Linked DNA regions of Homo sapiens: region 2 is linked to region 1. Evidence: fine-mapped expression QTL. A gene starts in region 1. The other region holds a variant in brackets. All regions are shown on one strand. Distances are from middle to middle. Region 1 holds the start of QDPR (quinoid dihydropteridine reductase). Region 2 has its middle 31 kb from the start of QDPR.

The links. PIP is the estimated chance that this variant, and not a neighbour inherited with it, causes the effect.
Region 2: its variant is fine-mapped to the expression of QDPR in monocytes (Quach 2016, PIP 0.95).

The regions. Positions count from the first base shown.
Region 1 is chr4:17,509,589-17,514,965 of GRCh38, reverse strand. It overlaps QDPR (quinoid dihydropteridine reductase), which reads left to right and starts at 2,876. Exons shown (of 7, transcript NM_000320.3): 1 at 2,876-3,016. The coding sequence starts at 2,912. RefSeq lists a silencer at 2,668-3,247.
Region 2 is chr4:17,477,982-17,483,358 of GRCh38, reverse strand. No RefSeq gene overlaps it. Among named protein-coding and RNA genes, the nearest start is that of QDPR, 31 kb to the left of the region's middle. The variant A/C (reference allele first, on the strand shown) is at 2,389.

The DNA.
Region 1 (5,377 bases):
CTCGTTTCAAGTATTTAAATAGCCCTGGTGTGGACCTCGTAATGATAAAGGAGTTAGTAATAAGCAAAATCAGGTAGCTCTGAAGATTAAGAGACGCAAACCAATCTCAAAAAATGCATGTGTTAGAAGGAAAACAAAAACAGAATGATTAGCACTTGAATATTGCCAACAATGCGCAGTATCAAATGTCGATCTCGCTGATGCATGGGTGCCCTGGCATTTCTTTCTCTGAAATGTCACTGCTGTCAGAATCTTTAGGACTGTTATTAATACCATCAAATGACCCCGGTTCTTGGGGCTTTAATATTGAAATGTGTAAATAGGGCCTTATGAATTTCTCACTGTGTGAATCTGCTGGGGGTAAACTGTGACTAGAATTACTTTGTGGCTGTTGGGGTAGCCTGGAATCCAACACTTAACATTGCTCTCACCCGTCCCTCCTTCTACGTTATCTGAAATGGGAGAGAAAAGTGTTTTTCTAGTGTATTAGCAAATAGTAGCCACACTGCTGGGGTATTCATCTCTTCTAATAGTGGAAGATCTAGGCTTTCCTTTTAATCTGTAGATACTAGGAATGAAATATTCTTTCCTTTCTATCTTATACTGTGGACTTTGACATTTTGACTTTTACCTTATTCCTGAATATCAACTTAACATCATGTGAGACTGGCAACAGTCACTCTATCCATATCTCTGGGGAGCAAAGTTGGGCAAAAGTGGAGCAGTAAAATTTCTTAGTTGGTCACAGAAGCCTGAAGGGGGGTTCAGGAAGTTGCACTGTTAACCAATAGGGGTCCCAGGAATCTCACTTGGAGAGTGTCAAGGAAGCAGAGGGACACATTAATGGAAATGTCAGTTTCCTTCCTCGCAACTGGGGCTCACTTCAGTGGCCACTCCACAATGAAAATAAAAATGAGAATTTCTGAGCCTGGGCAATGTAGTGAGACCTTATCTCTACAAAAAATAAAAAAAAAAAATAGTTGGGCCTGATGGCGTGTATTTGTAGTCCCAGCTACTGGAGGCTGAGGCTGGAAGACTGCTCCAGCCCAGGAGCTCAAGGCTGTAGTGAGCTATGATCATGCCACTCTGAGTAACAGAGTGAGATCCTGTCTCTTACTATATATACAGATGAGTGGCACTTTACCATGTACAAAATGCAAAATGCTTTGACCATATGCTTGCTCACCTCTGATGCTCCAGCAACCCTTTAAGGTAAACAGGAGATGCACGATTTCAGCCATTTCTCTCATGAAAAACTGGATGTCAGTGCTGGGGCTGAAATTCAGGTCTTTGAATTACAACAGCTCATCTTCATCCCAGTGACTTTGAAACAGCAAATGTTTTTCTGGTAAAAAATAACAGAATACATATAAAAGGCTCAGAAGACTGCTTGGCACATTAAGTGATCAATAATGTTAGTTCACGTTCTTATTTTAACATTAAGCATGCTTTGACAAGTCAGGACTTGCGTAAATATCATTGAGTCATATTTCTGCCGTCAGTGAGGGACCTGTGTCAACTTTTGGTGTTTTGAGGGTTAAGCAATTGTTTTCAGAAAAACTCTAAGGGAAACACTTGATTCCCAACAAGCCTTTGTCTTGCTGAACAAAGGTGTGGTTAAGTGGAACTCTAGCTATTGAAGACCTGTGTTCAAATTCCCACTCTTCCAGACAAGTGTCTGTGACTCTCATGCCTCAGCTTTCTAATCTGCATAGGATTATCGTGTGGAGTAAAGTGAAATAGCACAGGCAGATCACTTAGCGCAGTGCCTTGGATATAAGGAGCACTAAATAGATGGTGCTCTCCTCTCCATCCAGCCTCCTAGCAGTTCTATTTCTGATAATGAAGCTTCTGACAACAAAATGTGCTGCTGGCTGCATCCTCTTCTCTAGTGACATATTTCTGCATGCTTTACCTGGCACAAGTTTACTGAACAAACATCTGTGTCTGCTGTGTACAAGGTTATATGTGGATGGGAAGTGACACAAAGATGTATGTAATACAGGGTTCTGCTATCAAGAAGGTTATGAGAGTGTTAGAGCTCTGGTTCTCTATCAGTGATGAATTTGCCCCTAGGAGACAACTGTTAAATCTGGAGATATTTTTGATTCTTATGAGTGAGGGGTAGGGGTTTGCTATTGATTTCTAGTATATGCAGGCCAGGGATGCTGTAAATATCCTACAGTACCCAGGGCAGCACCTGTCACAAATAATTATCTGGCCCAAAATGTCAGTAGTGCTGTAGATGAGAGGCTCTGTGTTAAAGATACAGGCCATGGGCAGAAATAACTAATATACAAGGGAGAAAATGCCAGGATCTGTGTCTGGCGATGGGTGGCATATAGTAAAAGGGCCATTTGGATTAATGGGTATAAATTTACGGTTAGATAGAAGAAATAAGACCTAGTGTGGTTTGTCTCGTCTCGGCGGTGGACTTTCAGCTCCTTGAGCGGAGCGACCTCTTCTGTTTTTTTGGCAGGTGGGAATACTTAAATCTCTATTTTGATGCACAATTAAAAATAAAAAATTGCCAAAACAGTGGTCGAAAATTGTACTATACTATATTTTACATGCTTACACTTCACAAATTAATGCTCGTAAAACACCCGCTCTCCACCCTCCTCGCCCTTAGCCCGGCTCGCTGCACGCCCCGAGGCCCAGCACTTGCTGGCGGGTGGGAGGAGGGGCTTCGCCGATGTCCCCGTCCCAGGGGCAGGGCCTGGCCGAAGTTACAGTCCCTCCGGGTGGCGGGGCGCCCCGAGCGTGGCAGCGCGCTAGGCGGCAGCAGCGGGCGCGGAGCGGGGCGCGGCCGCCGCGCGTTCCCTCTTGGCGGGGTTGGCCGGCCGGGGCGGGGCGCGGCGCTCCGGCTCGAGGCATTCGGAGCTGCGGGAGCCGGGCTGGCAGGAGCAGGATGGCGGCGGCGGCGGCTGCAGGCGAGGCGCGCCGGGTGCTGGTGTACGGCGGCAGGGGCGCTCTGGGTTCTCGATGCGTGCAGGCTTTTCGGGCCCGCAACTGGGTAATGCTGCGGGCTGGGGCTGCTGGGTCTCCGCGGGGGTGGCCGGGGGCTTTCGTGTGGAACCCGGCGGGGGGCAGTCTAGAGGAAGGTGGGGGCCCCTGTGCACCCCCTGACTCGTGTTGCTTGCACGTGCGCGCACAGGTCTACGCGTCTATTCCTGTTTCCGAGTGCGTGCGCACGCCAGTCCCAGGGCGCTGGGCCTTTGCTGTGCAAGGAGGTGCTCCGTGGGCCTCCGCCAGACCCAAAAAGTCCGGCGTGACTCGGGAGAGAATTCCAAAGGGGAGGAACGGGAGCAGGGGTGAGAGGACGGAGAGAGAGTGTAGAAGGAAGGCTCTAGAATGAGACAGCCCAGTCCCGGTTACTAGTCATGAGACCGCGTATTGATTACCTAACGCCGTAGGACCTCGGTTTCCCCATTTGTACAACGGAGATTCTGACAGTGAGAGTTGGGACGATTAGATGAGATAATTGGTGTCGTTGCACATAAATTACCTGACGCCTGGTAAAAACTGTTTAAATGCTGTCTATTAATGTTACTATTACTACCCACCCCTGTTCTTTTAGCCCCATTGGATCTGACAGTTTGAAGGCTCAGCACGGAAAAACGCTGACGGCTTCTTTGCTCTGCAAAGACTATTTCAACTACTTTGCATAGTCAGGTGTCAATTTCCAGGAGGCGGCAAGTCGGAGCAGAGCTGATACATGGCCAAAGACCCTTGACCTCAGCCGCTCAGCAGGCCTCAGCAATTTCCCGGTGGAGACACTGCCAGCGGCAGCGTTCTGGGAGCTTAGTTAGCAGCAGCAGCACAGCAGCCTGGGCAAGAGTTCCCCTGGGACCAGAAAAAGGCTTTCAGGATTTTCTTTAAAAAAAAACTATCTAATTTTTATAGATGAAGGGGGCAAAAGTACAGTTTAGTTACATGGATATGTTGTGTAGTGGTGAAGTCTGGGCTTTTAGTGTAACCATCACCCAAATAGTGTACATTTACCAAGGTTTTCTTGTTGCTCAGAATCTGGTACAGGAATATGCTTCTGAAGAATTCAGTCACACCACTCCCTTCCTGCCACCCATCTGCTCAGTGCTTGGGGACACTGATGAGGGCGCTTTCCCAGGTCTTCAGAGATGCATGGTGGTGACAGAGGCAGCACTTCTGCCAAGGGCCAGGCACTGTGTTCCCAGTACCAGAGTTCCCATAGACTCTTAATGCCCCCAATATCTTTAAGGCAGTAGATCCTGTTAGCGTCATGTGTTAGAGGGTGAAGGCTGTGCTTTCTCCTGGTGGTGGCACTTTGGTTTACCTTGGTCTTGGCAGAATCTGGAGAGCTGATTTACCTCTGGCTCTTGGTCTTTCCCCTCCGAGCTTCTTCCTGCCATCTTAGGGAGGGCTAGGATGATGGAGACTTTTCATTGTTTCAGTATCCCCCATGGGATAACAAGTTAATTAATAATATAACAAATGTTGATGAATAGATGCTGTGTTTACAGCTTAAGGTAGAGATAATTATCTCTGGGGACTTCAGACCAAGAGACCCTGAGTAAGGACTGAACATCCCCTGTGCCAGGAGCTTTAGCATCTTCCATTTCATTTAATTCTTACACTGACCCTGTTAATCATCAACAAACAACCTCTTTTGTTGGGAACCTCTGCCCGGCATCGGAGTGAGAAAGCCACTCTGGCAGAGCTGGGATTCAAACCTGATCTGTCTGATTTCCAATCCTAAAGTCCATCCCTCTCTGCTGCAGGACAGGGATCCTTTGTGAGCTGAATCTGGTCTGCCACCTGTTTTTGTACAGCCCAAGAGTTAAGAATAGTTTTACATTTTCAGGTGGTTGAAAAGAAAATCAAATGAAGAATTATATTTTGTTGTATATGAAAATTAATGAAATTCACATTTCAGCTCTGAAGATTTATTGGAACACAGCTGCACTTATTTTTTCCCCCTATTTATTGCTGTGTTCTGTTACAATTGCAGATTTGAGTAACAACAGATACCATATGGCCAGCAAAGCCTAAGGTAATTGTGATCTGGCCCTTTACAGAAAATTTGCTGGCCCTTGATGTCTCTAGAAGTGCAGGGTTTGTGTTTTAGAGGTGAATGTGGAGGCGGAGTAGAGTGTTTGGAGGTAGGAGGGCCTGGGATGGAGCCCAATATAGGGTGTGTTTTCATTGAAGCCTCTTACCTGTCTCCACTCTGCTCCTTTATTTTTCTTTCTTTTTCTTTTTCTTTTATTTAAATGGAGATAAGGCCTCCTTCTGTTGCCTAGCCCGGAGTACAGTGGTGCGATCATAGCTCACTGAGCTCAAGTGATCCTCTCGCCTCAACCTCCCGGGTAGCTGGGGCTACAGGCATGTGCCACCA
Region 2 (5,377 bases), 32 kb after region 1:
CCAAATTTGTATGTTCAAGACCTCACTCTAATGTGGCTGTATTTGGAGATGGGGCCTCTAAGGAAGTAACTAAGATGAAATGGGTTCGTGAGGATGGGCACTGATTCAACAGGATTAGTGTTCTTATGAGGACAGACACCAGAGTTCTCCCTCTCACTTTCTTCCCACACGCATGCACTGAGGAAAGTCTGTGTGAGGACACAGCAAGGAGGCTGCCGTCCACAAGCTGAGAAGAGAGCCCTCACAAGAGATGGAATTGACTGGAGCCTCAGTCTTGGACTTTCAGCCTCCAGAACAGAGAAAATAAATGTGTGATGTTAAGCCACCCACTCTGTGGTGTTTTGTTATGGCAGCCCACACTAATACAGGCAGTGATGGAATATCTCGTGAGGAAGTGACGTTTGAACACATCTGAAAGAAAGTGTAGAAGGCAGCCAAGGGCATCTGAGGTAAGGACATTTTAAGACAGAGGAACCAGTCATTGCAAAGAGCCTGAGGCAGTAGTGTACCAGGTGGGGTGAGGAACACAGGGAGGCTGGGTTGGCTGGGGCAGAGAATGGAGCAAACAGAGGGGCAGTTTCAGGAGATAAGATCAGACAGATGATTGTGTAGGGTAGGGGTCCCCCAATTTTCTAGGCCCACAGTGCCCTTAGTGTCTCAGTAATTTTTTACAATGCCCCTACATCAAAGAAACTAACTAATGATTTGGATTTACAAGTGGTTGGGTTCTAACAATTTTATAGTAGTAATATGACTGATATTGCTCTATGACCTAGAACATGGAAAGTACCCTGTAGAGTCCCTGTGAATGCTGCCTTGGAGTGCCTTGGTGCACAGTTTGGGAATAGCAAATGTAAGGGGGTGTTGGGCATTTTAAGGATTTGGTTTTGGATTTTGGGAACTACCGCAAGGATTTTGAGCGAAAGAGTGGCATGATATATTTTAAAAGATTGCTCTGGCTGTTGTGTTGAGGATAGTACTGAGGTTTTTGCAAGAATCCAGGCAAGAAATGACAGTGGTTAGGGTGGTAGCAGTGGAGGTCGTGAGAGGAGAATTGGGAAATGGTGGATATTTTGAAGACAGATTCAAGAGGATTTCCTGGTGGATTTAATGTGACGGTAAGAGAGAAAAGAGTCAGTGATGTCTCCCAAAGTTTTTCACGTGAGCAAATGGATTAAGTTAGCAAGTGTGATAGAGAAGGCTGTGGATAGAGCAAGTATTGGGAGTATCTGGAGTGTTGTTTTGGACATAGAGGTTTACTCTATTAATACCCCAGTGGAGATGTTAAGTGGGCAGTTGTATTAAGTCTGGTGTTTGAGAGAGAGAGAGATCTAGGGGTCCTGAGAGATCTGGGGGTCCTAAGCAGTTAAAGTTATGAGACTAGGTGAGATCACTAAGGGAATGTGTTGGCCAGGGTCCAGAAGACAGAAGCCATGCAGTATTGTGAATGAGGTCAGTGTAATATAAAGAATTATCGAGTAGCAAAGATTAATTCTAAAAGGCTAATGAGAACTCTGAAGAATATTCTTGTGCCGAGGGACAGCACTTGAGGAACAAATTTGGAAGACAAGTCCCTCCCCAAGGCTGGGACCTGAGCTTCATTGGAGAAGGTATGGCGGTGGACATAGAGTAGGACATAGAGAGGTGGACATGGAGAAGTTATGGCACTGGACAGCAGAGTTTGTTGGGTTCCCTGGGCCTGTGTTGGTCTACAGCCACTGGGGAAGCAGGAAGCACCCTGCCAGGGTGCATGAAGTGCTGCTGGATGTCCCTCACATGTACATGGTAACCATGTGGCAGGAACCATATGGAAGCACACCAGAACCAGGAAAGGAAGCCCCCTCCTCCAACACTCTGTGTTGGCAAAACTGAACATTGTATCAGCTATGCAGGAGAAATGTTTACAGAGTCCAGTTCCATTATTGCAGAACAGTCAATGAAGGGTGGCTTTGGAGCAGAGAGGAAATAAATTGGAAACTGGCAATACACTAAATATGTGAGAAGAGAAGAGAAGAAGATAATTTCTCTGATAATAGGGAGAAAAAAAATCAACAAAAGGGCACTGAAAGAGAACAACCAATAAAGTAGGAGAAAAAGTAAGAATGTGGTGTCCCAGGAATAAAGTGAAGAAAGTATCAAGAAGGGAGGGAATGAGCAGCAGTGTTGAATGCTGTGAGAAGTCAAGTAAGATAAGGGCTATAAAAACTGACCATTGGACCCAGCTGTGGGGAGGTCCTTGCGATCTTGACAAACAGTTCAGTAGAGTAATGGGGAGTAGGGAATATTCGAGTGGGGTTATGAAAGCATGAGAGGAGAGGAAATGGTGTACAGACAACTTTAACTTAGGTTAGGTACTTTGTTGGAATCTTCTAAACTTTATCCTTGAAC[A/C]GAATCTGGAAAACTCTACCAGGTTTTTGAATCTGTTTGTTCTCACAGGTATGCTTTATAGCTGAAATCATTTCTTAGGGAATTGATCAGATACATGTAATTTGAAGCCTGGCTTATTGAATTTTAGCTTCCCTCAGCCCGAACTTGCCTGAAGACAGCTTGCCTCTAGGTGCTAATTTCCTGCTACATTCCAGATTGTGGCTTCTGCCCCCTTCCAAATGGGCTGTCACCAGCTTGGAGGTCAGCCTGCATGTTCCTGGAAGCTGAGAGCGTACACAGCTTCTAGGAATAGAACAGCATGCCATGGGGCTCCTCCAGAGTACTGGGGAGGAACCCGCTGTGGTCTGTTCCATTAAACAATTGTGACTTTTTCTTTGGAACTTTCAGTGTGAGTATAACCTACACCTAGAAGCAATATAGAGTTATAGAAGGGCCCTGAGTCAGGTCACATGAATTTGGACATAGTTCTTCCATTTACTTGCTGTAGAACCTTGAGAATATTTCTTACATCTCCATATCTCAGTCATATGAGAAACGGGAACATTATCATGATCTCCAGGGATTAAACAAATGAATGCATGCAAAAGGACTGGCATATAGAAGTGCTCAGAAAGTATTGGTTGTTATTCTTATTATCTGTTTCTAATTTTATATGGAAGTATGACGGGAAAGTAAAGTTCATGTCACACAGCACGTGGCAATACTTCGGTTCTTATTGCCAAATAATATTCCATTGTATGGTTATGCCACATTTTATTTGTCCACTCATCAGTTGTTAGACATGTGAATTGTTTCTGCTTTTTGGCCATAGTCAGTTATGATGCTGTGAACATTTGCAAAACTCACCTTTTGTGTGAACATATATTTTCATTTCTTTTGGTACATGCCTACAAGTAGAGTTATTGAATATCAGTTGGTGACTCTATATTCAACCATTTTAGCAATTACTAGACTGTTTTCCAAAGCAGCTGCACCATTTTACATTTCCACTGGTAGTGTATGATGGTTTTAGTTTTTCCACATGTCCAGTCCAGTCAGTCTTGATTTACATGTCTCCAGTCAGATAAGTCCATCCTCTTCCTCCTATGGTGAGGAGCAAGTAAGGACCTCAAGGTCTCATTTGTCAGAGTGCCACAAGTATTACATAATTTTTAATTCAGTTGGTATCTTAATTTTGGTTTTCTTAAAAATCGGCACTGATTGCTTGATTATAGGTTGTCTCTTTTTGATTATAGCCATCCTAGTGGGTGTGGAGTGGCATCTCATTGTGATTTTGATTTGTATTTCCCTCATAGCTGATGATGTTGAGCATCTTTTCATGTACTTGTTGGCTATTTGCATATGGTGAAATGTCTGTTCAGATCCTTTGCTCAATTTTTAATAATATCCTTTTATTACTGAATTCTTAGATTCTCTATATACTCTAGATACAATTCCCTTATCAGATAAGTGATTTGCCACACCTTTCTTTCATTCAGTGGGTTGTCTTTTCACTTTATTGATGGTGCCCTTTGAAGAACATAATTTTTAACTTTGATGATTTCCATTTGCACATAAGCTTTCGTTTCTCGCTGTTTTCTAGGGAACCTGGACTAAGCACCTGAGTGAGGTAGATATTAGTTCCATATCTGGTGAGGGAACTAAGGATCATAGAGTTTAAGTTATTTTCCCAAACCACATAGCCGGTGTAGAAAGAAGCCAGAATTTGCACTGAAGTCTGTGAGATCCCTTATGGACAGGGTGCAGGACATACTAAGTGTGAGTTGAGCTTGCACATTGGAAGGCTGGGCATGGTGGCTCCCAGCCACTATGGGAGGCCTAGGTGGGTGGATCACTTGAGCCCAGGAGTTAGAGACCAGCCTGAGCAACATAGTAACACCCCCTCTCCACAAAAAAATACAAAAATTAGCCCAGCATGGTGGCACATGCCTGTAGCCCCAGCTACTCGGGAGGCTGAGGTGGGAGAATCACTTGAGCCTGGGAGGTTGAGGCTGCAGTGAGCTGTGATCATGCCATTGTACTCCAGCCATCATGGAGTGAGACCCTGATTTGGTTTGGCTGTGTCCCCACCCAGATGTCAACTTGAATTGTGGCTCCCAGAATTACCATGTGTTGTGGGAATGGAAGGGAACCAGGGGGAAGTAATTGAATCATGGGGCCGGTCTTTCCCATGCTATTCTCGTGGTAGTGAATAAGTCTCACGAGATCTGATGGGTTTATCAGGGGTTTCTGCTTTTGTTTCTTTCTCATTTTTCTCTTGCCGTCACCACGTAAGAAGTGCCTTTTGCCTCCCGCCATGATTCTGAGGCCTCCCCAGCCATGTGAAACTGTAAGTCCAATGAAGCCTCTTTTTCTTCCCAGTCTTGGGTATATCTTAATCAGCAGCGTGAAAACGGACTAATACAGACCCTATCTCAAAAACAAACAAAAAGAGATTGCACATTGGCACTTGGTCCCTGAATGTGCTAATGATATGTGGCATTCATGGGCCATCTGCTGTGTGTGTGGGGTTTTACATACATCCTTCCTTGTATATCCTTAAGGCATTCACCTCTTCAGCCTCCAGGATGGGAAGGTTTTTGCAGGAATGTATCTTTTCCTCTCTTGAGGTCCTCACTTGCTCCTCACCATAGGAGGAAGGACGGATTTATCTGATTGGAGAGACTGTAAATAAAGACTGACTGGAACATATGGACCAGGGGCGGGTCTGCTGCATGGACTTTGGGCTGTGTGGGTTGCTCACTCTCCTGCCCTCTTCTTGCCTATGCAGAACTGATTTCTCACCTCTACCTTCCTGTCTGTTCCTGGTGGGTTAGGAACGTAGAGGAGAGAAGGGATGAAGATTAGTTTCTCTTACCCCCTGAAGCATTATTTTTCACAGTGCCTCTCCACCTGTTCAGTGTTGAGTAAGTGCTGAATGAGTGGACAGGGAAACAGCCTTGGAGAAGCTTACTATCCCGCACATCCCTACTAAGTGATGCAAATGAGT